5 linked regions of the Homo sapiens genome follow. Changing the gene in region 2 together with the main gene of any one other region gives a genetic interaction. Each region holds a gene or a part of one and is shown on either strand. Other genes may lie near its edges. The genes, in order: ACR, PTP4A3, KRTAP4-1, ZNF8 and SHISA8.

Region 1 (5,475 bases), on a different chromosome or scaffold from region 2:
AGGCCGAGGCAGGTGGATCACCTGAGGTCAGGAGTTTGAGACCAGCCTGGCCAACATGGTGAAACCCAATCTCTACTAAAAATATAAAACATTAGCAGGGTGTGGTGGTGGATGCCTGTTGTCCCAGCTACTCGGGAGGCTGAGGCAGGAGAATCACTTGAACCCGGGAGGTGAAGGTTGCAGTGAGCCAAGATCACGCCACTGCACTCCAGCCTGGGTAACAAGAGCGAAACTTCATCTCAAAAAAAACCCGCCAAGGTGTTGGGATTTAGAAAACCCTTTTCTGTTTGAGGACACCTGGCTCTTCACAATAAAACCCATGGCTTTCAAGACTATGGGCTCTGCCCTAGACTTAAAAAGTCATCTTGGCCGGGCGCGGTGGCTCACTCCTGTAATCCCAGCACTTTGGGAGGCCAAGGAGGGTGGATCACAAGGTCGTGAGATCGAGACCATCCTGGCTAACACGGTGAAACCTCATTTCTACTAAAAATACAGAAAATTAGCCGGGCATGGTGGCGGGCGCCTGTAGTCCCAGCTACTCGGGAGGCTGAGGCAGGAGAATGGCGTGAACCCAGGAGGCGGAGCTTGCAGTGAGCCGAGATGGCGCCACCGCACTCCAGCCTGGGCGACAGAGCAAGACTCCGTCTCAAAAAAAAAAAAAAAAAAAATCGTCTTAATGGCTAATAAGCCAGGATTGTTGTCATTGTTGTTTCAATGTCACCCCTACCCCAAGGGCAGTGCATGTACAAAACTCTCACTGCTGCTTGGATGGTAAGAAAAGGTGGGGGCTAAGGGGATTAAAAAACGGAAAGCCAGCGAGCACTCGTTCAGCAGCCGCTTACCAGACGCCTGCTGTGTGCCGAGCCCTATGCACGTCACTCGTGTGTCCCCTGTCTCCCGTCCTGGCCTGTGCAGCTATGTTCTGGGTCTGCCCCTACCTCAGTCTGCTCCCATCTGCTCTGCAGGTGACGTCCAGATCCACCCCCAGGGTTGTAGGTGCTGCTGCGGTGGGGGCCAGAGTGGCTGCTGCTGTTGGGGACCCTTCTGTCTGTGGGACCCCTTGAAAAGGAGCAACGCTGGCGCATGCGCCGTAGCATCGGGTCTTTCTAACCCAAAGGTCACGGTAGAGAGTCCAGCGCTTTCTTTCTTTTTTTGTTTGAGACGGAGTCTCGCTCTGTGGCCCGGGCTGGAGTGCAGTGGCGCCATCTCGGCTCACTGCAAGCTCCGCCTCCCGGGTTCACGCCATTCTCCTGCCTCAGCCTCCCGAGTAGCTGGGACTACAGGCGCCCGCCACCATGCCTGGCTAATTTTTTGTATTTTTAGTAGAGACGGGGTTTCACCGTGTTAGCCAGGATGGTCTCGAACTCCTGACCTCGTGATCCGCCCGCCTCGGCCTCCCAAAGTGCTGGGATGACAGGCGTGAGCCACCGCGCCCAGCCAAGTCCAGGGCTTTCAAGGAAGTCCGCATCGGGGTTGTTTCAACCGCCCCTGCCCCTGCCAGGTCTGCCCGTGTGTGGAGGCGCTGCCCCGAGCTTCCCCTGCGGTCTCCTCGGAACAGATATGCAGCATATGGGGAGGGACTTATTGACCCAGCTGCAGCAGATCCCGTCCGCAGCTGAGCCGAGGAGTTCTGAAGAGGGACAAGAAGCAGGGGGAGTGGCTTACAGCCAGACTGTGGGAGTGGACAGTGTGTCTCAGACTGGAGTCTGGAGAGGAGCAGTCCTGAGGCCAGGCTGCAGCCCCACCACCTCTCTACTGTGACCTGGGTGGGCGGTGCTCCAGCCTTCTGATCCAAAATGGGAATAACGGGACCATGTGACTCAGGGAGTGCTTGGTGCACACTAGGTGTTATTGGTAATACTGCAACTAACCTCCATAATCCATCGTTAATACGCACACCCACCCCCCATCCACCTGTCCACGGGCCTCCACCCTTCCTTCCTCTCTTCCTCTCTCCTCTGGCCTTGATTTGGATAACATTTCCCCACCTCCTCCCACCACCTCTAGTCTGCTCTTTCTGGTGTATAAGGAGGGGTCGGGGCATCGACTGGATGGGTCTGAGGTTTAACTGGAGCATCACAGAGGATGGGGTTCGGTGGGGCAAGGAGGCAGGGCTTTTGTCCGTGTCTCCCGTGATCACTGACCACCGAGTGGTCTGACTATAGCCCCCAGGCCATCATCTATACTGATGGAGGCACGTGTGGATCTCATCGACCTGGACTTGTGTAACTCGACCCAGTGGTACAATGGGCGCGTTCAGCCAACCAATGTGTGCGCGGGGTATCCTGTAGGCAAGATCGACACCTGCCAGGTAACCTTCCTTCTGGCTTCTGGGCCCCTGGGTCCCTCCAGGACTCTCCCGGCCCCTGAGAACATCCTCCTTTTGGATCCCCAAGCTCCACTATCTCCACTGCTCTGCCCAGGGCCCTTCTCTAGTGACTGCTTCCCCGGTCCCTTTTCTAGCACCTACTCTCACAGTGGGGATGAGCGGTGACAGCCACCGGCTGCCCCTGCCATGTGCCCCTGTGGACACGTGGGTTTGCTCATCTCACTGCAAGGAAAGCCCTGACAATTCACACCCTCCTCACATCCCAAATGAAGCCCCTGACACCCCCTCAAACTTTACTACAACCACTTGTGTTTACAGCAGCAGGAGACCATGTCACTGTGGAAATTGTCCTCCCAGAGCCTTCCGACCCCTCTGGGCAGGGGAAGAGTGGCTCAGGCAGATAGTGACCTCTGTGTCCTTCTGGACAGGGAGACAGCGGCGGGCCTCTCATGTGCAAAGACAGCAAGGAAAGCGCCTATGTGGTCGTGGGAATCACAAGCTGGGGGGTAGGCTGTGCCCGTGCCAAGCGCCCCGGAATCTACACGGCCACCTGGCCCTATCTGAACTGGATCGCCTCCAAGATTGGTTCTAACGCTTTGCGTATGATTCAATCGGCCACCCCTCCACCTCCCACCACTCGACCGCCCCCGATTCGACCCCCCTTCTCCCACCCTATCTCTGCTCACCTTCCTTGGTATTTCCAACCGCCCCCTCGACCACTTCCACCCCGACCACCGGCAGCCCAGCCCCGACCCCCACCTTCACCCCCGCCCCCACCCCCACCTCCAGCCTCACCTTTACCCCCACCCCCACCCCCACCCCCACCTACACCCTCATCTACCACAAAACTTCCCCAAGGACTTTCTTTTGCCAAGCGCCTACAGCAGCTCATAGAGGTCTTGAAGGGGAAGACCTATTCCGACGGAAAGAACCATTATGACATGGAGACCACAGAGCTCCCAGAACTGACCTCGACCTCCTGATCTGACCTGGTTCTCAACAGACCCAGTGAGCCCTTCACTCCTGAGAAAAAGGAAAGATGAAATAAATAAATAAACATATATATATAGATATACACACACACATATCTGTATGTATACATGCATATACATCAAGAGATGCTTTCTGGACTTCTTCCTATCCCCCCTCCCAACCCAAATTTCCCCTATAAAATCTACCCTCTCTCCTTCACCCTACAATAAGGCGGAATTGCTTGTACATTAGTGCCAATCGTGTTTTTTAAAATCTTGATTTTTAATGCTGGAATAAGGTGACCTGGGGCCGTAGACCGGGGATGGTCTTTATTTCACACTTAGGGAGAAACGACAAATGGTGAAAATAAAAGAGCCATCTCTGCATGTGCAAGTCAAAGGGGGTGGACCCCCAAAGCAGCAGCTGTGAGTGAGCTGACGGGGAAAGAGGGGGTGTGGGTCCAAGTCTTCTATCAGGAGGCTGGTGGTGTTGACACCCACAGAGAAGATTCTGCATGAAGGTTGAACTCCCCAGAACACAAAGGCTAAGGAGGCCACTAGGCCACCAAAACAAGTGTCTACTACCAAACACAATTTTGCTTGTGGCTTGTTAGTGTCCAGTTGACACCAACAAGCCTGTTCATTACTTGCCTGTAGTTAAATCTTATTAGTTCCTGGATTTGAGCAAATTAAAAAATGTATTCTTTGCTAGAGCTTTCTAGGAATTGCAATGGGGAATACTTTTTGGATGCCCCCGAGTGAGCTTTGAGTGGCTTCCTTAGGATTTGGGGTTATTTATTTTAAGACCTTCCATTGCAAGGAACAGAAACCAGTTAGAGCCATTTAAGTGATAAGGATGCAAAGATGTCACACAGAACCAATAGGAAAGGCCAGAAGCAGACACCAAGAATGGTGAGGAACCCAGGCAAGGCATGACCCTGGTCTGCATAGAGTACCTGCCCCACACTGCCCCATGCTGGGGGCAGCTGTCACCTGGAACTGTTCACATCTATTTGCAAAATCCTGGGGAAGAAATCCTCCAGCCTGACCAATATGGTGAAACTCCATCTCTACTAAAAACACAGAAAAATTAGCCAGGTGAGGTGGCGGTGCCTGTAATCCCAGCTACTCGGGAGGCCGAGGCAGGAGAATCACTTGAACCCGGGAGGCAGAGGTTGCAGTAAGGCGAGATCACGCCACTGCACTCCAGCCTGGGTGATAGAGTGAGACTCCATCTCAAAAAAAAAAAAAAAAAAAAAAGAAGGAAATCCTGATAGGTTCAGGCCAACCGCCCACTCTGATCAGGGAGTAAAAATGCAAAACTTGACTGCTGGTTTAACCCCTTGTGAGACTGAAGATGGCAGGTCTCAGAAAGAGAGAAAACCTTGGCATTTGGCTGAGCAGTCATTGCAACAAGCTTTCACTCATACGTGTGTCCACCTAGCTGCCTGTGTGAGTCAAGCGCAAGGTGGTCCTATGCCCCGGTTACCAAGACAGGTGGCAGAGAGAAGGTGCCATGGCAGGTGGGAGGAACCCTGGCTGAGAAAGCTCAAAGGACCAGTCATTTTCCTGCTGGAGCTGGAACCTGGACTGATGGAGCAGCTGTGAATCTTCATCTTCAAAATTTATTGGTCTACCTGGGTTCAAGCAAATACCCTGCTCTACCCCGCATAAGCTCCGTGCTCTGGGGAAGATGTGCCAGAGGGCTGTGTGACCATGAAATAAGGACAGATGCGGAGTATTAAAGCAGGTCTTGACACACCAGAAATGCCCACGAACGTGGGCTGTCATTCATGGGCCAGCTGGTGGTGACTGCTGGTGCATAATCTTACGCTTATCTGCAGGGGCACTTCGGTGCCTGCCGTTTTCCTCTTATGACCCCTGAAATGCTTTGGCCACATAGGAGGGCTTGCGTATTGAGTCGAATGGCCCATGGCTCTGTAGGATAGTAACAGTTGATCACACTTAAAACATTCTATCTGCCTTGGCTTAAGAGCTGGTGCTGCTGAAGTTGGAGTTGGTAATTCATTTTATTGACTTTTAGGCTCTCTCTCCTAAAGCCAGTTTCTTAATCTCCCTTTGTACTCTGGTGCCAGACACTTGACATTGTCTAAATACTAAGCATACAAAATGCAAGGCCCCGTGCAGAAGCCGTAACAACGGCAGCTTGGGATT
Region 2 (6,657 bases):
AAGCCCTAAACAGTCCCAGAGAGGTCCTGCTCATTCCTGGGTCAGCCCCTGCAGCCCTGTTCGTGACTTGTCTGTCCCTGTCATGGACTGTGGGCGGCAGACAGGGAGCGTTGACTGACCCATGCCAGGTCCCCAGGATCAGGCACAGGGTCAGGCCCAAAGCAGGTGTCAGTTAATGCCGTGGGATGAGGATTTCTGGCAGTTTAAATTACTTCTTGAACACTCCTGGCAATGTAGACAGTCAGTGCCCAATGAGTGCTGCCAGTTGGTGGTACTGGCAGCCTGAGTGCCAGGCGCTGCTCCATGCCCTTTATATGTAAAGGCTGTGTGGCCCCCACAGTGGAGACAGGTAGGTGCGGGAGGGAGCTCAGAGCTGGGACAAGCTGACTCAGAGCTGCCACTCCTACTTCCCCACGCACCCCATGGCTGCCTCCTCCTGGAGGCCCTCAGGGGGTCCTTGAGGATGGAGCCCCTGCCTCTGCAGAGATGCTCTGCCCCCAAGCCTCTGCTGACTCAGTACCACCTCCCAAGGACCCGTCCATTCTGTCCATCCAAATCCCACCTCCCTGGAGGCCCATTCACCAGCCCACACTTACTGGGCACCTACTGAATACCATGGCTATACTGTGGGTGCAAGAGAGCTCACGAGGAGAAAGGCTTAGTTCCTGGCATGACAGCAAACTTGGCAGAGCAATCAGGAGCTGGACTCATGGGGGCCAGAGACCCCAGGACCCCAGGACAGGGGGAGAGAGGCCCTCAGCTGCTGGGGGGCCCTGCCCCAATGGACCCTCCAATCCTATGAGAGTCCCCTATCCTTGATCCAGTTTCTACCCCAACCCCCTGAAAGGGGGAGAGGCGCAGAGGCCCCGAAGAGGGCCCACCTTGTCCTGCACCATCCGTCAAGTACAGCAGCTCCTCAAATAACACTGTTGCTTTCAACGTGGTTTTGTGATAACGCTGACGAGAAAAAAAAATCGCTTCCCTTTCAGGGCCATTGCGTGGCATGTGCACGAGCTCCCCAGGTCTGTGTGGGTTTTCTCCCTGTCCTCCGGCTCCCCCATACCCCAGTGCTGTGCACATCCGGTGAACAGGCGTGTCGCCGTGGCCCTGGCTGAGTGGGTGTGGCTGTGCATGGGAGTGTGCCCCGAGAGGGGATGGTGTCCTGAGCAGAGTCAGGTCCCACCTTGTGCCCAGAGCTGCTGAGACAGGCTCAGCCACTCATGACCCTGCACTGGAATTAGTGGGTTGGAAAATGAATGAATAAATGAATAAAAATTATTGCAAAATAAAAATTCGTCAAATAGACATAGTCAGACGAATGCGTGGCAATACAGGAAGCCGCCACGTTTGTGATCGTTTGATTTTGAAGTGCGTGGTGGCAGGAGGAGCTCCCGACCATGGTTGCCGTGAGATGTGTGTTCCGTTACCACTCACTGGCCCACGGAAAGCTGGGGAAGCAATTCTCTTCCCTGTTTAATTCACTTTTCTTACATGTATGTGTAGCTCACATTTACTTCAGTGTTTAATGTTAGAAGTGTTTGGGGTCTTCATTGGAAGCCTGGTGACGTTTTTGTGACCAGAAATACCTGGCAGGAACTTAACTCTTATCTATCTCTATCAACTTATGGGAACACTAGTGTCCTTAAACCAATTTTCACTTAAAACTGGCATCGTTTTGCTTAAAGCCGCAGCTTCCAAGAACTTATGGATGATGTGATGTGAGGACTTACTGTACACCATGCCCAGGAAAAAAGTCTGGGGTGCCCCTGTGGCCAGCCTGGGCCCAGCCAGGCCATCTCCCCAGGCTCGGGACTCTCAGACCAGAGCCTCCCCCAGAATCCCACAACATTCTCCCATCTCAGCAGCATCAGCAACACCAGGGAGGGCAGTGCCACGGCACACACGGTGCCCAGCCTCCTTGGCCCCGCGCGAGGCCGCTGCAGCCTTCCTCTGGGGCTGCGTGCTGGTTGCATGCCCTCTTTCACTTACTATCTTGAATGAGTCAGGAAGGAGAGGCTGATGGGGCTCATCCTGGGGTTGGCCCAGGGCTCTGCGTCTCTGACCTGGGGAGCTGGCTAACCCTAAGTCCCGTCACTCCCTCCGAATCAGAGGCACCCACACCCCAGGGCTGCTGGGAGGCTGGACGGAAGAACAGCGGCCCTGGTGCACACAGGAGGTGCTTGGGACCAGCCAGGGACCCTCCTGAGACATCTATTCCTGCTCTGGACCGGCCCGCTGGCCAGGCACCCAACAAACAAGCCCCCGGGCTGCCCGCAGGCACCTGGATCCGCCAAAGGCCCGGTTCTCACGCTCACTTCCTCTTCAGGGGAGGCTGGGGATGCTTGCCAGGCCCGAAACCCCAAGACACTCTCAGGGAGGGCTTTACTCAAGACGATCATGAGTAGGCACCTTCTAAAGGGATGAGAAAGCGGAAGCAGGGGGGAGGGGTGGGGGGAAAGTGAGGAAAAAGGGGAGCAGGAGGTATGGGGGAGGGGAAGAGGGGTAGCCAGAGGCGGAAGGGCCAATCCTCAGCCTCCCCATGTGGGCGGGGGCAGGGCTGCCTGCCCCCACTCCACCCAGCTCCCGAAGGCAGGAGGCCGGGACAGGCGCGAGGCCGCCAAGAACACAGGGCGCAAGGCCCCACGGAGGTCAAAGATCCCCCTAGGGCCAGGTAGTCCCTGCTGGCAGTGTCTGTGGGAAAGGCCCTGGGCCTAGCCAGCTACACTCAGGCCTGTCAGTGGGCACTGGGGCTGCCACAAATGCCGGGGCAGCTGGACCCATCCTGTGGAGTGGAAACCCAGGCCCCTGAGCCCACTCCAGGAGGGTCCAGACCTACAGGGTTATCTGGGGGAGCCCTCCCTGAGCAGGGCGCCAGAGGGCTGGAGGAGGTGGTGGAGAGAGGGGTTCTGCAGGGCCACAAGTACCCCGACTGGTCCCATCCATGCCTTCAGCCCCTGCCAGCTGTGCCTGCCCACCTCTCCCTTCACCTGCTCCACCCACACCTTGCAGCCTCAGACCCGTCACCCAGGGCGGCCTCCAATGTTTCTAGAGGCTGCACCCTCTGCTGGCACCCCTCTCCCCAACTCCCTTCTCCTGGACACCCCAGCTGCTGCCCAGGTCTCCTCCTCCAGCCCCGACCCAGGGTGGCTTGTGTGATATCAGGGGAGGTGTGGGATCCCGGGAGCTGGAGGAATGGCCCTGGCATCACGGGGCCCCCCTGGGCTGAAGCTGGAGTGGCCTCGTCCATGCCTTGAGACTGTGAGCTTCATGGGACTGGGCCCTGCTGGGGCCACAGCGGGGGAGGGGTAGGTGACTGTGTGGATGGACAGATGGATGCGCTCGGTAAATGGTTCTGTCCATGCTCCGGCCCACGTGCTCCAGTGCCTTGGAGCCCCGCTCCACCTGCTGTTCTCTGAGCTCCCTGCCCCCGCATGCTATCCTGGGACTCCACAGCACAGACCTCTGAGCCGATGGCTGTCCTCACAGGCCCGGGGCCCCTCGGGACGGCCCTTCCGGTGACTTCCTGCCAGGGAGGCCAGGGGGAGGGGTAAACAAGGCCTCCAGATGGCTTCCTGTGGCTGGGCAGCCGTGGGAACAGCCCGGCCCAGGGAGGCTACCAAAGGAGGGGAGGGTGGGAGCAGGGGCCAGCCAGCAGCATCCGTCAGCAGAGCATCTGCTGAGATGGACCCGCTGCCCTCTCGGAGCCTCCGACATGGCCGGGGGGACGTCACACCCTGTTTACAGAGGGGGACACTGAAGCACAGGCAGGCAAGTTACCCCAGGGCCAGCCCACCAAACCCAGTGCCCTCCCCTCCACACCAGAGACTCCCGTCTCTCTGGCCTCATCTGCAAAGGAGCAGATGAGCTGGCTGGCTAGAGGTCACCTCAACGACAGGACGTGCAGATGTGCAGGTGCCAGCTTGTCTGTCTTCCATCCCAGCACTGCCACTCCCCAACTGTGCTACCTAGCAGAGTGCCAGCCTCAGACACCAGCTTCCCTCCCTGGGAAACAGGACGACCATGGCAGCTGCCACCAGGGGACCCTGAGGTTTAAGGATGTGCCCTGGGTGAGCTCCGGCTGCTGGCCCAGAAGAGGCTCGCGACGGTGCCATTAAGAGTGATGCCGTTCCGTCAGGTCCTGGGTCCCCAGGAGGAGCCTGTCCTCACCCGGCTTGCCCCTTCCTGGTGCCTCGTGCATGACTCCCTCCGTACTGTGATGCCATCTCCTCCCAAAAGCCCACCCTGACTACCTGCTTCCTGCCCCACCACGACCTCTAAGTCTTGGGGACACATGCTCCAGGGAGGGAACTGCCATCTCCTACAAGTCCTACTCACCCATGGGATTTCTCTGGGGTCAGGACCGCCCCTCTCTGCCTACTGCCATCCCCACGGGGCCAGTGTGGACCCGGGCAGCCCCCCAAGAGTTATGGGGAGGCAGGAGCTACACAGCAGCCAGGATAGGGATGAAGGGGCTGGCAGACACACAGCCGGGCACCAACAACCCTCCCATCTGACCCAGGGTTCTGCCAGCGGGCCAAGAAAGACTCACCCCGGTGCCGAGACGCACATCCTGGCTGTCCATGGCCTCACTTAGGAGAGCCCATCATGGGGGTGGGGGGATGGCTGGTTAATAAACAAGCATCTGACCAGACCCAGAGACCAGGGTCCAAGGGTGCCATCGGGAGAGGACCCCAGTCAACACCCAGGGAAATTTCAAGTGACACTGTAAAACAGCACCCGAGGCCGGCACGGTTCTTGTGAAATGAAGCAGAAGCCCAGAGCTACTGCAGCCGTGTATTTCCCAGGCTGTTTGAATTTTTATAATGAACATCACCAAATGTGTGTCTAAAACAATAACCACGTTTGCGCCTGGCACAGTGGTGGGCCGGGCACAGATGTGGGCCGGGCACAGTGGTGGGCAAGGTGCAGAGGCGGGCCAGGCGCAGAGGTGGGCCAGGCGCAGAGGCAGGCCAGGCACAGTGGTGGGCCGGGCGCAGTGGCTCACACTGTAATCCCAGCACTTTGGGAGGCTGGGGCAGGAGGATCACTTGAGTCCAGGAGAAGCAGCCCGGCTAACATGGTGAAATGCCATCTCTACAAAAAATAGCTGGGCATAGTGGCGCATGCCTGTGGTCCCAGCTACTCAGGAGGCTGAGTCAGGAGAATCGCTTGTGCCTGGGAAGCGGAGGTTTGCAGTGAGCTGAGATCGTGCCACTGTATTCCAGCCTGGACAACAGGGTGAGACTCCGTCTCAAAAAAGAGAAAACAATAACTACATGTTTGAAGCGTTGTTCAAATGTCGCCTCTCCCCCATGTGAGCTCCTTGTGGGTCCCGCAGTGCTGCCATTGCACGTCCCCAGCCTGCCCCAAGAACACAACCTGGCAGGTAGGGAAACTGAGGCACCCATGGACAGCCCTCCCCCAGGTCACAGGCCTGGAAGAGAGTAAAGGGCATGCCACCAGGACCCCGTCCATCCATTGCAGTCACCGACTCAGAAGCAAGCAGCCTGGCTCAGGTGGCTGGAGCTCAGCTGCCAGGCCTTTGTCCTGATCCCACCCATCTGCTGTGGGGGCCGGGGTCTCCCCCAGGCTCCCCATTCTCCAGACACAAAAACGGAGGCCCAGAAAGGGCAGGAGCAGGGAGAGTCGGCAGAGCCAGGGCCAGGCCTTGTAGCTCCCCAGGGCCATGCGGAGGGGACAGGGAGGCCACCGAGGGGAGGGGCAGCCGGGAGCCCCGGGCACCCCCAGGGACCCCCTGAGCTCCACACGGCAATTCCCAGCAGATGGGCCTCTGGGCAGCTGGCCAGAGGGAAGCAAAGCCCGGGAGGAAGGGCCTCTGCGGCTGACCCAGGACGGGGAGATTAAAGGAGAAGATGTTTGCCTTGGCAGGGGCCCCAGGACCAGGCGAGCCAGAGGAGGGGGCCAGCGTTCCAGGCATCAGTAGAAGATGCCAGAGTGGGGGTGCCAGGAGTAAGAGGCACCGGCTCTAGGGGCAAGGGCGGAGTGGATGAGCAGGTAAAGCACACCGTGTGCCACAGGAGGGGTGGTGACAGGGACCTGAGGCAGGCGGGCAGAAACCCTGGGTGGGGTGGCGGGGAATCCTCCGAGCCCTCCCGAGCCTCTTCCAGGAAGCCTGAGTCACAGGAGGGACCCAGGGCCAGGAGAGCAGCCGGGAGCACCGGTCCCGTGGGAAGGGGACTGAGATGGGGACAGGGACAGGGCAGGGCCACCCGTCACCTCCTCTAGCTGGGCCAGGCCTGGCTTCGAGGTCTCCGTGGCGGGTGAGGACGAGGCCGTGGGAACAGGCTCCTGCAGCTCCCCAGAGGGACTAGGGGGTGGTAGAGCTAGACAGAGTGGGTCCAGCCCATCCTGCAGAAGGGGAAACTGAGGTCCAAGAGAAAAGCCTCCTGGACAATGACGTCATCAACTGAAGTGTCCCCTGGGCAGCCCAGGCCTGGACACTGGGGAGAACAAGGCAAGAGTCTCCCCAGCCAGGCCCTGAGCACCCTCATCCGGGGGTCTTCAGGTTCCAGAGTCCAGTTCTAGCACATCCACCCTCAGCCATGGACCCGAGACCCTCCAACTCCCAGGGTTAGAGACTTCCTCTTGATGCCCTATTTCCAGGACCCCACCCCAGGGAAATCTGATCCCCGCAGG
Region 3 (5,726 bases), on a different chromosome or scaffold from region 2:
TGGGCCTATTGATATTATTTGGTTATGGAATGGAAATTATCTCAAAGACATGAGAAACTGTGATAAGTTTGAACTTCCAAAAGGGAAAGTAGTTGCTAAAGAGCAGAGGAAACAACCAGATGGCTGCCTTGGAGCTAGGCTGCCTTGGGTAAAACATTCACTTGTCATGGGGAGATGAGAGGCTGCTGTAAACATGGTGACACACGCTATAAAGACAAAACAGATAACATTTCTTGACAATTTGCTTTGCCTATCCCAGACAAGTGTGGACAGTAATTGGTATTTAGGTATAAATTATACCAATGAAAATGAGAAATCTACCAGTATTTCTCGCTTTACCTTCCTGCTGTCTACCCATCAGCTGAGTGGCACCCCCATCATTTGCAATGACCTTCCACTGCATCTGTGCTTCACCTTGACAGCCTTGGCATTACTGCTTACTGCACTCCTGCCCATATTTTCTGATCCTTCATGATTATTATCATTATTGAAAAGAATATTATTTCCCCATTTTAGAACATCTATAATTTTTTTGGTCCTTTCCTGAGGATAATTTTTATTCTATTAAATCCTGTATTTTGCTCAAGTATATTTTTTTTTCATGTGGAAGTGACATCAGGCAGAATAAGCAAAGCCATGTGGCTACAGGAGACATATGGTTTGCTTGTCTGAATATGACCAAGTTTACCTGAGATACAAGAAAGCTGTAGAGTCTAAGCATATCCCGAGAGTGCATTCTTAGCTCACAGCTTAAAATTACAGCCTGAGTCCTTCTCTTTTACAACTCTATCATTGCCTACCATTCAAACCCTTACCCAACTCCTCCCTGACTCTTCCCCAAAGAGGATATTCCCTTGTCCTTGTGTGGCTCCATCTTTGACTAAGAGCTTTCTCATTTGCCTATGACTTTTAGTATAGTACCATTAACATAGAGGTGATGGGATGAGGCCAGTGAGGTTTAACTTCCACCAAATTTGGTCAACACCAACTGTTTCTTAGCTCATCTCAGTCTTGTCCTCATAAGAATGTAAACATTTTCCTATATTTTCCTCCTCTTCATTTCATGGGTCTGTGACCTGCACATCTTCCCTGTACCAACTTAACTCATTCTATTATTAAATGTGTGTATATGTATATTCCTAATGTCTTACTCTTCCCCAAGACAGAAAGTTCTCCTCTGATCAGTACTACCCAGCACAATCTATCTACTTTGCTCTTTCCTCTTATTTCCAAGATTAGACGGTGAGCTCCTTTTAGGAAGCTCCTGTGCCTCACATATCTTGATGTGATCTCCAGAGCCCAACAGTGCAATGAACATGACAGATGATCAATAATTTCATTGACTGAATAAGAAACTTTTGTTAGTTAAATACAGCGAGTTATCTTATTTTGAAAAATTTATGAAGTCCTTTCTATAATATAAGCATTACATTATATTTACAAAATCAGTTTTCTTTCCTGGTCGTGGTAACCCAAATTTGTCTTTATCTTGAGAGAAGTAATGCTAAAAAATAAACTGACAACTAATTCTCAAAAAAATTGAAAAAAGAGAAAAGAATTACTGATATTAAGATAATATTTATTGAAGAACAGTTAATATGTAATTTTGAAGGTCAAATCAAGCATAACAGTCAGAAACTTAGAGGCTTAGTCTAACTGCATCATGCATCTGAGGTCTGAATGCTGCTGGGAAGAGATCCATGGGAAAAATGAGTGGTATTAAATGTAGATGGATGCCCTTTCACCAGTTACTTAGTGGAATAACAGGATAATAAAGCTGATGGCCATTTAACACATGGACAAGTTGATATAAATGACACTTTCATATCATGGGATGGTGACTGGCTCATGGTTGATAGTCCAATATGAGGTTCAACAAGAGGATCCACAGCAGCTGGGGCGGCAGCAAGTTGCACGGCAGCAGGTGGTCTGACAGCAGAGTGGACGGCAGCAGCTGGACACACCACAGCTGGGGCGGCAGGTGGTCTGACAACAGAGTGGACGGCAGCAGCTGGACATACCACAGCTGGGGTGGCAGGTGGTCTGACAGCAGAGTGGGCGGCAGCAGCTGGACACACCACAGCTGGGGCGGCAGGTGGTCTGACAACAGACTGGGTGGCAGCAGCTGGGGCGACAGCAAGTGGTCTGGCAGCAGGTAGTCTGAGAGCAGGATGGGCGGCAGCAGCTGGATACAACACAGCTGGGGCAGCAACAGGTGGTCTGGCAGCAGCTGGGGCGGCAGCAGGTCTCTTGGCAGAGGCCTTGATCACAGCCCTGGTCAGAGCAGACAGAGCCACAACAAGAGTTAACCATGGTGTCAGAGGGTGGAGGTTCTAGGTAGGTTTCCAAGACAGTGAGTTTTTCGAATGTGGGAATCTCCTTATCCCATGTCCACTTTTATACTCAGCTGAGGAGCTGTTGTCACCACATAAAAGCTATTTCCTTGTTATTGTTTATCTTAATAGATAGGCAATTATCAAGTTAGCTAATTGTGGGAAAATATCTGTATAAAAGGTGGAATGCACTTTTATTCTTTCTCTGTGTTAGAGTTTAGCCAATCCAGTCTTTCCTCCTCCTCTTGTCTTCAGTTAATTTAGTGTGTCATTTAATTTCAAAGACTTGTAATCTTACTCATCCAGTCGATTGTCAGGTGACAGATCACTTGGAACTCAGCATTCTGTGTGTCATCCTGAAAACTGTGTGTCTCACAGCAGTCCTCAAATGGGATGATGTTTCTTGTTTTCTGAAGATTCTTCTGAGAAAAATAAACTGTGAAACAACTAGAAGAAAACAGCAGAAATTGTCTTAAAATATTAGAAGTGGAGTGGATTTTCTAATACAGAAAAACTTAACAACAATGAAGAAAAAGATTGAAAAAAATTTACAACAGAAAAAAACTCAAATGCCTGATTGAAAAACAAGAAGGCTAAAGAGTAAGCTGAAAATAAATAATAATACCTTAACCAATCTACAAATAAATGAGCTAATTTTCTTAATCCATGAATACCTCTTACAACCCAATGAGAAAAACAACAACAACAACAACCAAACAGAAAATTGAGTAAAGGATATTAACAGTGATTTCACTAAAAAAAGAAATTTAAGTGCCTTTTGAGCTTCTGAAAGATGTTTAGTCTCACTCATAATTTAAGGTATTTTAATTGAACAACTTATTCACTCATCAAACCATCTACCGAATACCTACTGTGTGCCAGGTTCTACTGCATGCTCTCGGGATATGGCAGTGAATACTTGCTATTTGTAATGACAAATGTAAAATATTTAAGTTTAAAAACTTTAATAAATTGGTGAAATTATAAAGACATTGACATTTTAATACACAGTTGGCAGGGATCTAAATTGAGGCAACTTCTTTAGATGGTAATTAACAGAATCTGAAATTTAACAGTATCTTAAATTAATTTAGCATATTTTGAAATGTGCGTGTGTTTTGATTGAGCCTTTTCACTTCTAGAAATGTATTCAACAGATGCACCTATACATACCTTCCAAGATGTAAGTTCAAGGGTATTCTTTGCAACATTGTTTGCAAGAATAAAGCCTGATTTTAAATTCTATTGTGTTTACGGAGGGGAAAGCCCTTGATGTAGGCAACACACACTAGTGCTCAGAGGCAGTGAAGCATCACTTTCTTTTTATCACCAAAGAAACCTCTTTGACCTATTCTTGCAATTTTTCTATAAGTGCAAGACGACATTAATTTTTAAAAAAAGAAATTAAGAATGTTATCTCTTTAGGCCATCCCTATCCCATGCAGACACCTACTTTCTATTTAGACTGAGTTATTCAGGAAGGAGGGAAGAGGGGATGGAAGGAAGGATACAAGAACATATTTAGAATATATTTTTATGGACATATTTTATGACTATTTGGGGTATATATAAAAATTATGAAAATTCAGTTCGTTAGGCATAAAATGGCATAAAAATATCCATTGTGTCTAAGTTGATAATGATTTTACTCAAATTCTCCATATCTTTGTTTACTTTTCTTCTTCAAATGACCGTTTTTGAAATAGTATGTTTAAAGCCTCTGCTATGATTGCAGTTTTATCACCTTCCTGTCTATTTATAACAGGTTTTTTTCTTTGCACTTAGTTTGAATGTAGCCCAACTTCTTATGACAACAAGAATATTAATATTTTTGCAGACATAATTAATGTATCATAAGGAAGTCACTATCAAGGTCAAAGCAAGTGCAGGTATCATAGGCTTGGGATTCTGGTCTAACTGAGCCACAGTTCTATGGTCACTTGTTTGTTTAGAAATAGCCCTCTCTGTCTGAAGGCAGGGGAGACAGCTTAGAGATAACCCTTCTCCTTAAAACAAGTATGTTTTCAACATGGTAGTTGACTCAGGCTGGTGGTCAGGAATGAAATTCAACAACAGGATCCACAGATTGGTGGTCTGGCAGCAGACTGGATGGTAGCAACTGAACTCACAGAAGCTGCGGCAGCAGCAAGCGGTCTTGCAGCAGGTGGTCTGGCAGCAGCTGGGATGGCAGCAGATCTCTTGGCAGAGGTCTTAACCACACCTCTGGTGACAGCAGAAGGAGCTGCAGCAGGAGCTGACCATGGTGTCAGAAGGTGGAGGTTCTGGGTGTGGGTTTTCAGTGGCATAAGGTACTAGAGTTCATAAGCCTTCTTCCTTCCAAGTTTCCTTCTCTACCCTGCTGAGGACTTGCCATCACCATGACCTGGGTTATTTCCTTGCTATTGTTTATCTTACCTGAAGAGAAATGATCAGATATTCTGATTGAAGCATGACATTGTAGCAGTTAGCCTTGGTTTTTAAAATGGATGCTAAGGTAATTTCCATTTAATCAGTTATTTATCCCTAAAAGCACCATTTTTCTTCCTTTTTTGTTTTAGCATCATCTCATCCATTCCTTCATATACTTTTCAGAGTGTGTCATTTGATATTCTGAGCACAGGACGAGTCATTCTTTTGTTCCAACCATTTAATTTACTGTTCCTGAATGAGCTGCATAGCCACAGTCCCTTCAATTTGAACAGTATTTAAAATAGATGTAAACATGGATATGTTAATACCCAAAAAATAAGACCCCAGTACATTATAGCAAATAGCTGCTAATGAAATCAGCATAGCACACTTATAAATTATGAAGTAGCTAAAAAACATCTAAGGCACGTGGCTTCAAATTTAACTTGTTCAGAATAGAATTGCTCATTCTGTTTCTTTTCCGAACCAATGCCCTAATTAATTCCCCAGTCCTATTACAAATGGTTGTTAGTCCAAATTTTCAAGCTAGGGCTGGGCGCAGTGGCTCACGCCTGTAATCCCAACACTTTGGGTGGCCAAGGTGGGTGAATCACCTGAGGTCGGGAGTTCAAGACCAGCCTGGTCAACGTGGTGAAAGTCCATCTCTACTAAAAATACAAAAAATTAGCCGGGAGTGGTGGCACGTGCCTGTAGTCCCAGCTACTCAGGAGGCTGAGGCAGGAGGATCATTTGAACCCATGAAGCGGGGGTTGCATTGAGCCAAGATCACGCCCCTGCACTCCAGCCTGGGCAACAGAGTAAGACTCTATCTCCAAAAAAAAAAAATCAAGCTAGTAAATGTAAAGTTCTTCATTCAATAATCATGTTTTGGTTCCCGCTATGTGCCAAACCCATTCTCAGGGTGGAGACACAAGTGAAGAATACTCCACCCCATCCTCTCCTTCACTATAACTTCATTCTGAC
Region 4 (6,657 bases), on a different chromosome or scaffold from region 2:
CAAATGATCCTCCCACCTCACCCTCCCGAGTAGCTGGGATTACAGACATGCACCACCACGCCCTGGTAATTTTTGTATTTTTAGTAGAGATGGGATTTTGCCATCTTGCCAGGCTGGGCTCGAACTCCTGGGCTCAAGCAATCCACCTACTTTGGCCTCCCAAAGTGCTGGGACTACAGGCGTGAGCCACCATGCCCAGCTTTTTTTTTTTTTTTTTTGAGACCGTCTCTGTTGCATAAGCTGGAGTGGCAGCAGTGTGATCATGGCTCAGTGCAGCCTCAGCCTTCCTGTCACAAATGATCCTCCTGCTTCAGCCTCTTGAGTAGCTGGGACTACAGGTGTGTACCCCCACACCTGGCTAATTTTCTTTTTAAATTTTTTTGTAGAGACACAGTTGCACTGTGTTGCCCAGGCTGGTCTCAAACTCCTGGGCTCAAGCAATCCTCCTGTCTTGGCCTCTCAAAGTGCTGGGATTACAGGTATCAGCCACTGCACCTGGCCTTTTTTTTTTTTTTTTTTTTTTTGAGACAGTCTCACTCCGTTGCACAGGCTGGAGTACAGTTGCATTATCTTAGTCTCCTAGGCTCAAGTGTTCCACCTACCTCAGTCTCCCTAGTAGCTGTTACTACAGGTGTGTACCACCATGTCCAGCTGATTTTTTTGATTTTTTTCTTTTTCTTTTTTAAAAATTATTTTACTTTTTTTCTTTTTTTTTCTTTCTTTCTTCCTTTTTTTTTTTTTTTTAGAGATGGGGTCTCGCCATCTTGTCCAGGCTGCAGGCTGCTCAAACTAACTCCTGGGCTCAAGCAATCCTGCCTCAACCTCCTAAGTGCTGGGATTATAGGCGTAAGCCACTATGCCTGACTTTTTGTTTGTTTGTGTGTCCTTTTTTTTTTTTTTTTAATAGAGATGAGATCTTTCTACACTGCCCAGGCTGGTCTCAAACTCCTGAGCTCAAACAGTCCTCCTGCCTCAGCCACTGAAAGTGCTGGGATTACAGGTGTGAGCCACTGTACCTGGTCACATGTCTAGATTCTGTAAACTTGTTCCCCACACCCTTCTTTATTCTCTTATGAGGAAGAATTGTGTTTAGCTATAAATACCCTAAAACCAGGTTGGAGCAGCTCAAAATAAAGAAGCATTTTTCTTGTAAAACAGGAGCCCTGAGTCTGCTGGTACTGTCTTGGCATCTCAGAGGTGCCAGGGCTGATTGTTCTGTGATTTTCCCAGGCTGTCCTTGGGATTACAGTGCAGCTGCAGCAGCTCCAGCCATCACAGTTGTGCTCCATGCAGGAAGGAGGGGAAGAGGTAGGAAGAATTCTGCCAGCCACATCTGTCCCCTTTTGGCAGAACTCTAGATGTCACCTGCTGGGGTCTCTTTAGCCAGAACTAGGTCACCTCCTCTTGCACTGACCCTAGTTGCTAGAGAGGCTGGAAAGCTAGGGGTGTCTAGATTGTCATAATTGGCTTGGGCGAGTCATGGTCCCCTTGCTGTGGCTTGTGTGTTGGTACCCTGACCACATTCTAGAGTAAATAGCATCTGGCCATGGGATGTACAACCAGCAATGCCTGCAGATTAGCCTCCCACCCAAATACTTCTGATGCCACCCAGGGCTTTCTGATTCTGCAGAAAAACACATATGCCCCCATGATAGCGTATGACCTATCAACTGGGAGTCGGGTGAATCTGCTGCAGACCCTGTTTTCCTGCCCCTTTCATCGGTTGTCACTGCTGTTACTTCAGACATGTATGTCGGAAGCAAATTCTCATCACCCTGGACATATGCCTGTCACTCACAAGTCTTATGCCATAACCAAATCCAGGATCTAAAACGTGTGCCCATAAATACTAAGCAAAATGTTGTGCTTGCATGGATTAGGAGTATGGGGTCAAAATCATGATGGACAGTTTCAATAACTTAATACCTAGACAGTTATAAATACTCCAGAAGCAGAAGGTTTTCAAGGCTTTATGTTAAGACAGAAACATATTTTCCATGTAATGCTTTGTATTAGTTTCCTGTTGCTCCTGTAACAAAGTACCACAATCTAGGTGGCTTGAAAAAGCACCGATTTGGCTGGACGCAGTGGCTCACCCCTATCATTCCAGCACTTTGGGAGGCCAGGGCAGACGGATCACTTGAGTCCAGGAGTTCGAGACTAGCCTGGCCAACATGGCACAACACCGTTTCTACTAAAAATACAAAAATTATCCAGGTGTGGTGGTGCATGCCTGTAATCCCAGCTACTCAGGAGGCTGAGGCACAAGAATCTCTTAAACCCAGGAGGTGGAGGTTGCAGTGAGCTGAGATCATGCCACTGCACTCCAGCCTGGGCGACAGAGCAAAACTCTGTCTCAAAGAAAAAAAAAAAAAAAAAGGACAGATTTATTTTCTTATAGTTGTGGAGGTCAGAAGTTCAAAATGGTTCATCAGGGCTAGTTCCTCTGACGGCGCCCAGAGAGAATGCATTTCTGTCTTTCTCAGCAGCTGGAGGCTGCCCAGACTCCTTGGTTCATAGACCCTTCCTCCATCTTCAGAGTGCTTCACTCTGACCCATTTCCATTATCACAACCGCTTCCCTGACTCAGACCCTTCTGCTTCCCTCCTATATGGACTCTTTGGTCAGATTTAGGGCCCCAGGATAATCTCCCATTTCAAGATTCTTTTTTTTTTTTTGAGACAGAGTCTCGCTCTGTCACAAGGCTGGAGTGCAGTGGTGTGATCTCGGCTCACTGCAGCCTCCGCCTTCCCAGGTTCAAGCGATCCTCCTGCCTCCACCTCCCAAGTAGCTGAGACTACAGGCCGTGCCACCATGCCCAGCTAATTTTTTGTATTTTTAGTAGAGATGGGATTTCACCATGTTGGCCAGGATGGTCTCAATCTCTTGACCTTGTGATCCGCCCGCCTCAGCCTCCCAAAGTGCTGGGATTAAAGGCGTGAGCCACCGCGCCTGGCCCATTTCAAGATTCTTTTTTTTTTTTTTTTTTTTTTTGAGACGGAGTCTCGCTCTCTTCCCCAGACTGGACTGCAGTGGCGCAATCTCGGCTCATTGCAAGCTCCGCCTCCCGGGTTCACGCCATTCTGCCTTAGCCTCCCGAGTAGCTGGGACTACAGGTGCCCGCCACTGCACCCGGCTAATTTTTTTTTTGTATTTTTAGTAGAGACGGGGTTTCACCGTGTTGGCCAGGATGGTCTCTATCTCCTGACCTCGTGATCCGCCCGCCTTGGCCTCCCAAAGTGCTGGGATTACAGACGTGAGCCACCGCGCCCGGCCATCAAGATTCTTAATCACAGCTACAATATCCCTTTTGCCACATAAGGTTCCAGGGATTGGGATGGGGACATCTTTGAGGGGCCGTTATTCAGCATACCACATGATTAAAATAGAGAGTAAATTTTTTTTTTATTATTTTTAAGGAAAAGAAGCCTAGTCAATAGAAGAAGACCGCGTCTCTACAAAAAAATTTAAAAATTACCTGGCATGGTGGTGTGTTCTTGTAGTCCTAGCTACTTAGGAGGCTGAGCGGGGAGGATTGCTTAAGCCCAGGAGTTCAAGGCTACAGTGAGCTACAATTTGCACCACTGCACTCCAGGCTGAGCAACAGAGCATTAAAAAATAAAGGAAAAGAGGCCAGGCATGGTGGCTTACGCCTGTAATCCCAGAATTTTGGGAGGCCGAGGCGGGTGGTTCGCTTGAGTCCAAGAGTTCAAGACCAGCCTGGGCAACCTGGCAAAACCACATCTCTACAAAAAATGCAAAAAAATTAGCTGGGTGTGGTGGTGCATGCCTGTGGTCTCAGCTGTTCAGGAGGCTGAGCCCAGGAGGTTGCAGTGAGCTGAGATCATGCCACTGCACTTCAGTCTGGGTGACAGAGTAAGACCTTATTTCAAATATAAAATAAAATAATGGTGAAGAATCCCTGTCCAGGCAGATCCCACTCCCAGTGCACTCACAGGGGTTTGTGGGCTCAGGGATGGCTGGGCGATCTCAAGCCCCTCCTTGGCCCCTGTCACTCGTCTGGCATCATTCCTTACTGGTTCCCTCTTGCGGTTGCTCAGCTTCACCTGCTGCAGGTCACCTCCTGGCTGACTACAGTCCCAGCTCTTCTCCCATTTCCTCTCTTCATCAACTGCTCACCCTCTCTCTCGGAGACTCCATGGCTTCCCATGTGCCAGGATCAGTGAGTTGTTCTGGGCAGCCAGGAGTCAGGCTGGAGTTGGAGCCTGTCTCAACCTCAGTGCTCTTTGCTGTTCCTGGCCAGGCCAGTTCACTAGTGTTCTCAAGTCCCCCTCCTCCGGATGTTCTTCCGCACTCTCCCAGCAGGCAGCGTTAGTCTTGGCTGGGGTCACAGTGTTGTCTTTAGTCTCTGTGTTTTCGTCCGTGTTGTCTCTCAGGCAGTCTCCCAGCTCACGAGCCTGTTCCATGGATGTTCCTGAGGACCTGCCATGTGCTGCTGTTTGTGCTGTGGATGCAGCAAAGAATGACAGGAAAGGCTGAGCCCTCACTCAGCATCTGGGAGATGGAAGTCTTGAGAGATGGATGCCAGTGCCAGGCAGTGATGAGGCCGTAAAGGAAATGCACCTGGGGAGGGCAAGATGGGGTGCTCATGCCCCGGGACTGGCAGGGAGGCCTCTCTGAGAAAGTGACTCAAACTGGGGCACAGGGAGCAAGGTGGGCAGATGTCTGGGGATGAGGGTTCTTGGCAGAGGGAGCAGCAGGTGCAAAGGGCCCCAGGAAGGAGTATGGGGGATGCATTAGAGGGATGTGAGGAGCCATGTGGAGCAGAGTGGGCGTGGGGCAAGAGTCAGGAGGTGAGACGAGCCAGGGCATGGTGGAGAAGGGCACAGGGTCGTGTCCATCCTCAGAAGTGACTGCAGAGTGAATGGAGGAGTGACCAGGGCTGGCTTGCAGTGGGGAGGAGGGTGGGTCTGTTTGGTTTTGCATAATAGCTTTATCAAGATAAAATTGACATACCATAAGTTCACCTATTAAAATGTACCACTCAGCGGTTTTGAGTATATTCTCAGATTGTGTGCAGCTATCTTTACTATCTAACTCCAGAACATTTCATCACCATCTTAGTCAGCTTGGGGTACCGTGACAAAATACCACCGCCTGGGTGTCTTGTACAACAGACATTTATTTCTCACGGTTCTGTAGGCTGGAATTCTAAGAGCACAGTGCCAGCTGATTCGGGCCCTGGTAAGGGCCCCTTCCTCAATTGCAGAAGGCCGCCTTCTCTCTGTGCCCTTATATGGCAGAGAGAGGAAGCAAGCCCTGTGGTATTTCTTCTTATAAGATCACTAATCTCATTCTTAAAGGCCCCACCCTCGTGACCTAATCACCTCCCAAAGGCCTCATCTCCAAATACCCTCACAATGGGGATTAGGGTTTCAACATAGGAATTTTGCTATCGACATTCAGTCCATAGCAGTCACTCTCCGTCTTTCCCATCCCCTGCCAACCAGTAACCTACTTTCTCTCTCTATGGATTTGCCTGTTCTAGATATTCCATACGAATGGAATCTTACAATTTGTGACCTTTGTATCTGGCTTCTTTCACTCAGCAGAATGTTTTCCGGCTTATCCATGTTGTAGCGTATGTCAGTACTTTGTTCTTTTTTGTGGCTGCATAATATCCCGTCGTATGGATAGACCATATTTTGTTTATGCATTTGTTGAGGGGCATTTGGGTTGTTTCTACTTTTGGCTATTAATTAATAGTGCCACTATGAACATTAGTGTATAAATTTTTGTGTGAAGTGACTTATATTTTAGAATAAACCTCTGGGTGCTATGTAGAGAGTCAGTTTTTTTTTTTTTTTGAGACAGAGTCTCTGCTTGGTCGCCGAGGCGGGAGTGCAGTGGTGTGATTTTGGCTCACTGCAACCTTCGCCTCCCAGGTTCAAGCGATTCTCATGCCTTAGGCTCCTGAGTGGCTGGGACTACAGGTGTATAACACCACACCCGAATAATTTTTGTATTTTTAGTAGAGACAGGGTTGGCCAGGCTGGTCTTGAACTCCTGACCTCAAGTGATCCTCCAGCCTCGGCTTCCCAAAGTGCTAGGATTACAGGCATGAGCCACCGGGCCTAGCCAGAGAGTCATATTTGGGGGCCAGAGGTGACAGAGCAGGAAGCCTGGCACCTGGCCAGCCTCAGCTCCTCCATTATCTCTCCCGTTGTCAAGCTCTCATTCATTCATTCCCTCGATACGTTCCTTCAGCATTCACTGAGAGATATTTTTGAGCTTCTACTACTTGTCATTTCTAGGCACTGGCTGTGAACATTCTAGTGCGGTGAGGTGTACCCAGAATGAATGAACACATGACCTGTATTTTGGTCAGGACAAGAGCAGATGAGGGGGCTTGAAGAGGGCTTGGGGAAAGCGGGAAGCCTGGCTTATAACAGAGTCCCTGTCCTAATCCCCAGAACTGGTTATCTTGGATACTGGGTGAGCAAGAGGGTCAGAATCAGACAAGGAGATGTGACAGCAGAAGCAGAGGTGAGTGAGAGAGATCTGAAGATGCTGTGCTCAGCTCTAGAGGTGAAGGAAAGGGCCAGGAATGCAGGCAGCCTCTAGGAACGGGAAGATGCAAGGATTTTCCCCAGAACCTCCCGAAGAGAAACCAGCCCTGCCAACACCTTGATTTTA
Region 5 (6,189 bases), on a different chromosome or scaffold from region 2:
CCCGGTGAGGCCCAATTGCAGCTGGTCCCGTGCACAGCTCCATCATTTTCAGGGATGGCCACTGCCCACAGCCTCAGCCTGGCTCCACTGGGATGGAGATCCAGGGCCCTTGGAACTGAGAATGAGCAGGGGGAATTGCCCACTCTTGGCACAGCCCAGCAGGGGGTGGGAGGTGGGGTGAGAAGCAACCAGATTCCTTTGTGAGTCTGTGTAGGCTCCATGCCTCAGCCCCCACCCTCCTCCAGCTCTGCACAGCTGTGGGACAGGGGCAGGACCGTGGGCCCAGAGCTCTGTCCTGGTGCTTCTAGGCCTTGGTTTCCTTAACAGCCTAAAGGGACAGGGAGGTGGACCCTTTGTGGCAGGAGCGGAGACCGGGCCTGGTGGGTTCTGGGGCCTCAGGGCAGCCCAACCAGCAGAAGGAAAGCTCCAGACTGTTTATATATACCCTGGGAACAGGGACCCCTCCCTACCAACCCTCAGAACCCTCCCTCCCAGCCAAACTGCCTGTTGCTTGCCATTCCAGCCGATTCACAGCAATTCGGGAGAGTCCTAACCTGGGAGTCTGCTGGGTGACCTTGGGCAAGCTACTTAGGTTTCAAAACCCAAATTTCCTCCTCTGTAAAGACACACCCACTTGAGGCGCTTGTGGATTTCCTGAGAAAGGCCAACAAATGGTGGCCATTGTTCTTAAAACAGTACACCACACTTCAGGTACTCAGGAGGGAAACAGACCCACCTGGGTGGCTTTGCTGAGGTCACACACCTCAACCAGCCACAGCCCTGGCCCCTAGCCTCCCCACATCACACACCTCAACCAGCCACAGCCCTGGCCCCTAGCCTCCCCACATCACACACCTCAACCAGCCACAGCCCTGACCCCTAGCCTCCCCAGTGTTACCTGGCGGAGAGGAACTCTGTGGAAGATGCACGCAGACTGCTAGCAGTGCTCTGGACCACAGCCAGGTGCAGGAAGCCCTCCCGGAGGGACACTGCCAGGGACCCTGCTCCAGCTTTTCCCCCATTTCCTTCAGAGAAGCTCCTGGGAGGAGGCGCCCCCATCCGGAGCACCAGATGTCCACACGGCCCACACCCATTAAGGGGGGTAGCCCGGGGCCAATCTGGCCAAGCGACCTGCAGGCCAGGGGCTGGCCCACAGCCAGTGGTCAGTGAGCATCAGCCAGGTTCAGCCAACTCAAGCTGCAGAGTGGCGGCTGGAGGGGGCTCACCTTCAGTACAGGGCATGGACCCCCCACTGGGCCTTGGACCCAACAGCCCTCTCTCCTGTGCCCGGGCCTTTCTATGGCTGAAGTCTAACTGTTCCCTCTCTCCCAGGGCTCCCACGGGGGTGGGCATTAACCCTGACATTCAACCCTGGCCCCCCTCTCCAGCCACTTCCCCCTGGCTCTGGCCGGTGCACTGGAGCAGTCCTCCAACCTTGCACTCGCCGTGCCCTCTGCCTGCACTGCCATCTGTACAGTCAGTGACCAATGGTGCCTCGCAGCCACGCTGGGGCTTCTTTATTCTCAGGGGCAGGAACCACATAAAAGGGCTTATTTACAAGACGAACCCGCGGCCTGCAGGCTCCAAGACACCACTGCCGTTGAGGCAGACAGAAGAGCTGGCCTTACGGCAGGCGCTCCTCTCCCTGTGGCCTGAGGCTCCGACGGGCAGACAGGACCCCAGCCCATGCCTCGAGGGCACCGCGGCCCCGCTTCACACGGTGACCTCGGTCTTGCTATTGGTCCTTAGGTACCGGGACCCGCGGCCCGCGCTGCCGTAAAGGCCGGGGAGCTGCGGGTTGAAGGTCTCAGGCATCTTCACACTGAACTGGCGCCGGGCCGCGTGCCCGGGTCGCCGGGGTACCTGGAAGGCCCGAGCCGTCGGGTGGCTGAGCGGGGCGGGCCGGGCCGGGCGACTGGAGGTCCAGGCGGCATAGGGGCCCGGCGCGGCAGGGGGCGCGTAGACCGGCGGGGCCCAGGGGCAGGCGTCCAGCGGCGCAGGCAAGTCCGGGGATGGTCGCGGAGCCCGCGCCGGGGGTTGCCGCGGGGACGGCTCGAGGGCGGGGAAACGCTGACAGAAGTCCCGCGGGGCGGCCTCTGCGGGGACAGGGCAGGGAAGAGTGACGCCGCGCCGAGCACCCAAGCTCAGGACTGGACAAGGGGTCCCGGCCGGGGACTGGGACGGGGACCGGGCCGGGGCGGGCCGGGGGCGGGGCCCGCTGGGGCGAGGGAGCCGATTGGCCGAGCGGCGGGCGCGCGGAACTGGGAATTTGGCGCTTGGAGCTGCGGCCCCGCGCTTCGCAGTCCGGGAGCTCGTGCGCCCAGGTGCCCTGACGCTGCCCGCACCCGCCACTCACCTGCGGCCTTGAGCGCGGCGGCCTTGAACGTGGCGTACTTGGCGTAGTCTGGCTGCAGCGTCAGGCTGCCGCCGCCCTGCAGCCGCGGGCCGCGCGGGGGCCCCGGGGCGGCCGACCCCCGGGGCGCGTTGTTGAGGCGCTTCTTGTCTGGAGCGAGGAGTGAGACGCGGCTCGGTCCGATGCCCCGGTTCACTCCGCCCTCGCTGTCACCTCTCCGTAGTCCTCTCCCCGAGGCCGTTCGGTGAGAACCTGGGGGACCGTTCTCCGGGCGAGGCTGCGAGCCAAGCCTGTCTTCGCCGCAGCCTCCAGCGCCTGGAACAGGGCCTGGCTCCGAGTCACGCGCAGCGGCGGCGGCAGCCAGCCCGGGGGGTGCCACCCTCATGAACGGCTCGCCCGGAGGCGACGCTCGAGCCAGGCGCGGAGTCCTGGGACCTGCTCCCGCCGAGACGGGGGATGTCTGAGGAACAGAACCCAGACGGGGCGTGGGGGCTGCCAAGCCTGCCTGCCTCTCGAGAGACCCAGGGGGAGGCTCTGGAGCCCGAGCCTCAGATCACAGCCCCGGCCAGCAAATCCTGCATCTGGAACCTTCCTCACACATCACAGCCCCCCAGACTCGAGGCCGCAGGACCCGTGGGGGGTCCCTTTCCACCCTGGCGAGCTGGCTGGCCGGTCGGGCCCCTCACCCGCAGAGGCCGCGGCTCATTTCCACCGGGGAAGCCTCTATGCCCCAGCCGAGGGACCGCCTCTCGGCCTCTCACGCCCCTCCGCGTGCTCCGCCGCCGCTCAGCCCCGCCCGCCACCGACTCACCTGCGCTGTTGTGGGGGGAGCCCCGGGGGAGGCCGTCCCCCATCTGCACCTGGACACAGCCACCCAGGGGTGGGCCCAGGGTGGGAGGCAGTGGCTCCTGGGGGCCCGGCTGCTTCAGAAGCTCTGTCAGCGCCCTGCGGGGACAGCAGTCAGGGGTGGCCCTCTGTCTCCCACCTCATCAAAAGCCAGCCCCGGCCACCACCGTCTCACCGTGTGGCCCTGGGCAGTTCTTTCGGCCTCTCCAGGCCGTCCTCTCCGGTGCTCGAAATCACGCACGAGTTTCCCCTCCCAGGCAGTATCTGCCAGCCTCACCTGTGGCCCCAAGACAGCTGCTTCCCAGAGCAGGTCAGGAAACTCTAATGAGGCTCCCCTTCCCTCCCCTCCCCTCCCTGGAGCCCACTCTCAGGGACCTTCCCCAGGTGAGCCTCCCCTCCCAATGCGAGCTTTCTCTGCTTTCCTGCCTCTTCTCCCAAAAAACTGCTACTCATTCTTCAGACCCCATCAGCGGCCTCCTCCAGGAATCCTTTTTTTTAATTTTTTTATCTTTTGAAGCAGAGTCTCGCTCTGTTGTCCAGGCTGGAGTGCAATGGCGCAATCTTGGCTCACTGCAACCTCCACCTCCCCGGTTCAAGTGATTCTCCAGCCTCAGCTTCCCTAGTAGCTGGGATTATAAGGTGCCTGCCACCACACCTAGCTAATTTTTGTATTTTTAGTAGAGACGGGGTTTCACCATGTTGGCCAGGCTGGTCTCCAACTCCGCCGGTCTCGGCCTCCCAAAGTGCTGAGATGACAGGTGTGAGCCACCGCGCCCGGCCCAGGATGCCTTATTTACCTGCCTGCCTAACTGCCCCTGCAGCCGCGGCTTCTGCTGGGACCTGGGATAAAGCTGCCATCACGGGCATGAAGGACAGATGGGTGACGGAATGGGGATGTTGGGAGACCCCCTGGTGGCAGCCCAGGACCCACAGGCTGTGTGACCTTGGACAGCCACCTCCTTGGACCCAACACCCAGCCCCCACCCAGCTGTGATGTGACAGTGTCTGCAGCCCAGCTGCCTTCAGAACCCGGAACCCATGATTTTCTCCCACTCAGCCTGACCCTCCTTCCGGGGCTAGAGCCTCAAATGGCTGATTCGTGAAGGTCATTCAGGAGGCAGGACACCAGGGATGGCCGAGGTTTGGCTTCAGGTTTGGTGGCAGGGTCTGAAACCATCCTAGTACCTGCCTGGGCTGACCTTCCTGCCCTGCCCTCTCCCCAGAGGCTCACCTCTGTGGCCTCATCTCTGGGCAAGCACCTCAAGCTCCTGTCTCCCTGACAGCTGAGTAACCACCACGCCTCTGGGCCTTTGCACAAACTCTTTCCAGATGCCCCGCCCAAGCCCTCTGAGAAGCCTTCCCTGGCCTTCAACCCCAACACAGCAGAATGAAGGGTGAGACTCGAGGGGAGGACAGGGACTCAGGACACACCCACACACAAGCCTACGTCCCATTCCAGGTCTCCCCAGCAGAGAAAAGGGAGTTGGGGCCATGGGAGCCTGAAGCCCAGAAAGGAGAAGGGACTGGCCTACACCACACAGCACAGCAAGGGTGGGCATGGCTTTCCTGCGGCATCACCAAACCTGCTGCCCCATCCCCAGCAGGTGCAGGGAGTTCAGGATGAACATGTCAGCTGGGCTGCTGCAGCCACCCCTCACCATCGCAGCCCTAAGTTCCTTTTTCCCCGCCCCTGTCAAAGACATATCCAGGCCTCTTCCAAGCTACCCTCACCCATCATGGGGGACCCCCAAATTTGGGCAGCCCAGCCCCTACCCCTGCAGCATCCAGAAGCCAGGCCAGGAGGCTCCACCTCCTGAAGGCAGTGCAGAAGCTGAGGGTGGAGGCCAGGGTGCCAGCCCGGGCTTCCCTTAGAGCTCCCTGGGAGAAAGTGGGCTACGTGGTTTCGGGAGCGAGGGGTGCTGAAGTGCCAAGGAAGCCCTCACCCCCTGCCTCTGAGGCCCAGGAGGGGGAAGTGTCCACATCTGGCCTGCCAGGGTATGAAGGCTTCTCTATGGTCACTTTTAAATACCAGCCTGTCACATTCGGTGTCAGCAGCCCACAGGCCCAAAGGGTGCTGGGACCGGGTGGATGAGGAGGGCACAGGCCCCAGGGCATGGGGGTTGCTGGGGGCATGTGAGTGCCACGTGTGGCATGTGGGTGGGAGTTCCAGGGTCAGGACACATAGAGTCCTAGAGTCCTCGTTCCAACCGAGGAAGGGGACCTGGACCCTGTAGTGCCCACTTCACACCAAGCTCAGAATGCAACAAGCACCTGTCCTGGCCTCAGCAACACACGACTGTGTTCCAGAGTCCCCTTTCTACGCAGAGGGAGCCCTGACCTTCACCTGGGAGCTGTGGCATGGGGTGAGTGGGGGGAGGCCTTTGAAACCCAAGGAGGGAAGGGCAGCCTTGAGTCACAGCTGTGGGGGCAGGGGAGAGGCAGGAGGTGGAAGAGGGGAGGGAGGAGTGGGGAGAAGCAGGAGATGGGCACCCAGAGAACCAAGCGCCCCTTCCTTTCCCGTGCCCAAGACGCCCGGTCACCTCCCTGGCCAGCGGCGCCCCTTACCCTGGACAGTGACCCGGTGCCCTCTGTGCAAGGCTACCTGTCCCCCTCCCAGCCCGCCCCCACCCCCCTGCCCTCCAGAGGAGACTCGAGCAGGGAAAGGCGGTGCGGCGCCCAGCACGGGCAGAAGGTCAAAGGGAGTCAGGGCGGTGTCAGGTGTCTCCCTGATGAAGTGTTGGGGGGGCGGCGGGGGGAGAAGGAGACAGGAAAACCCAGAGAAGGGGCCTGCTGGGAGAACCAGCGCTTCGAGAGCGGCGGGAAGGATCAGCGGGCAGGGAGAGCAGTCCGAGGAGCAGGCGGGGGTCCCTGGGCGGCGCGTGCTCACCTGGTCACTGTGCGCCGCGCGCGCGGGCTGTGCGCCCTCTCCAGTCCCAGGCGCGCCCCGATGCCGGCCAGCACCAGCAGCGCTGCGACGCCGCACACAGCGT

The links.
Region 1: changes in PTP4A3 (region 2) and ACR together harm fitness less than expected from each alone (positive genetic interaction), as found in Homo sapiens cells (one study listed by BioGRID).
Region 3: changes in PTP4A3 (region 2) and KRTAP4-1 together harm fitness less than expected from each alone (positive genetic interaction), as found in Homo sapiens cells (one study listed by BioGRID).
Region 4: changes in PTP4A3 (region 2) and ZNF8 together harm fitness less than expected from each alone (positive genetic interaction), as found in Homo sapiens cells (one study listed by BioGRID).
Region 5: changes in PTP4A3 (region 2) and SHISA8 together harm fitness less than expected from each alone (positive genetic interaction), as found in Homo sapiens cells (one study listed by BioGRID).

The regions. Positions count from the first base shown.
Region 1 is NC_000022.11:50,741,896-50,747,370, forward strand, and holds the end of ACR (acrosin precursor), read left to right. Parts: intron 1-2,165; coding exon 2,166-2,311; intron 2,312-2,757; coding exon 2,758-3,312; 3' UTR 3,313-3,444; downstream 3,445-5,475. UniProt on the Homo sapiens protein: Acrosin is the major protease of mammalian spermatozoa. It is a serine protease of trypsin-like cleavage specificity, it is synthesized in a zymogen form, proacrosin and stored in the acrosome.
Region 2 is NC_000008.11:141,398,521-141,405,177, reverse strand, and holds part of PTP4A3 (protein tyrosine phosphatase type IVA 3), read right to left. Parts: intron 4,608-6,657; exon of another isoform or gene 1-4,607. UniProt on the Homo sapiens protein: Protein tyrosine phosphatase which stimulates progression from G1 into S phase during mitosis. Enhances cell proliferation, cell motility and invasive activity, and promotes cancer metastasis.
Region 3 is NC_000017.11:41,182,542-41,188,267, forward strand, and holds KRTAP4-1 (keratin-associated protein 4-1), read right to left. Parts: upstream 2,371-5,726; 5' UTR 2,314-2,370; coding exon 1,873-2,313; 3' UTR 1,559-1,872; downstream 1-1,558. UniProt on the Homo sapiens protein: In the hair cortex, hair keratin intermediate filaments are embedded in an interfilamentous matrix, consisting of hair keratin-associated proteins (KRTAP), which are essential for the formation of a rigid and resistant hair shaft through their extensive disulfide bond cross-linking with abundant cysteine residues of hair keratins.
Region 4 is NC_000019.10:58,287,138-58,293,794, forward strand, and holds part of ZNF8 (zinc finger protein 8), read left to right. Parts: intron 1-6,657. UniProt on the Homo sapiens protein: Transcriptional repressor. May modulate BMP and TGF-beta signal transduction, through its interaction with SMAD proteins.
Region 5 is NC_000022.11:41,908,052-41,914,240, forward strand, and holds the end of SHISA8 (protein shisa-8 isoform 3 precursor), read right to left. Parts: coding exon 6,087-6,189; intron 3,299-6,086; coding exon 3,165-3,298; intron 2,789-3,164; coding exon of another isoform or gene 2,504-2,788; coding exon 2,357-2,503; intron 2,097-2,356; coding exon 1,714-2,096; 3' UTR 1,492-1,713; downstream 1-1,491. UniProt on the Homo sapiens protein: May regulate trafficking and current kinetics of AMPA-type glutamate receptor (AMPAR) at synapses.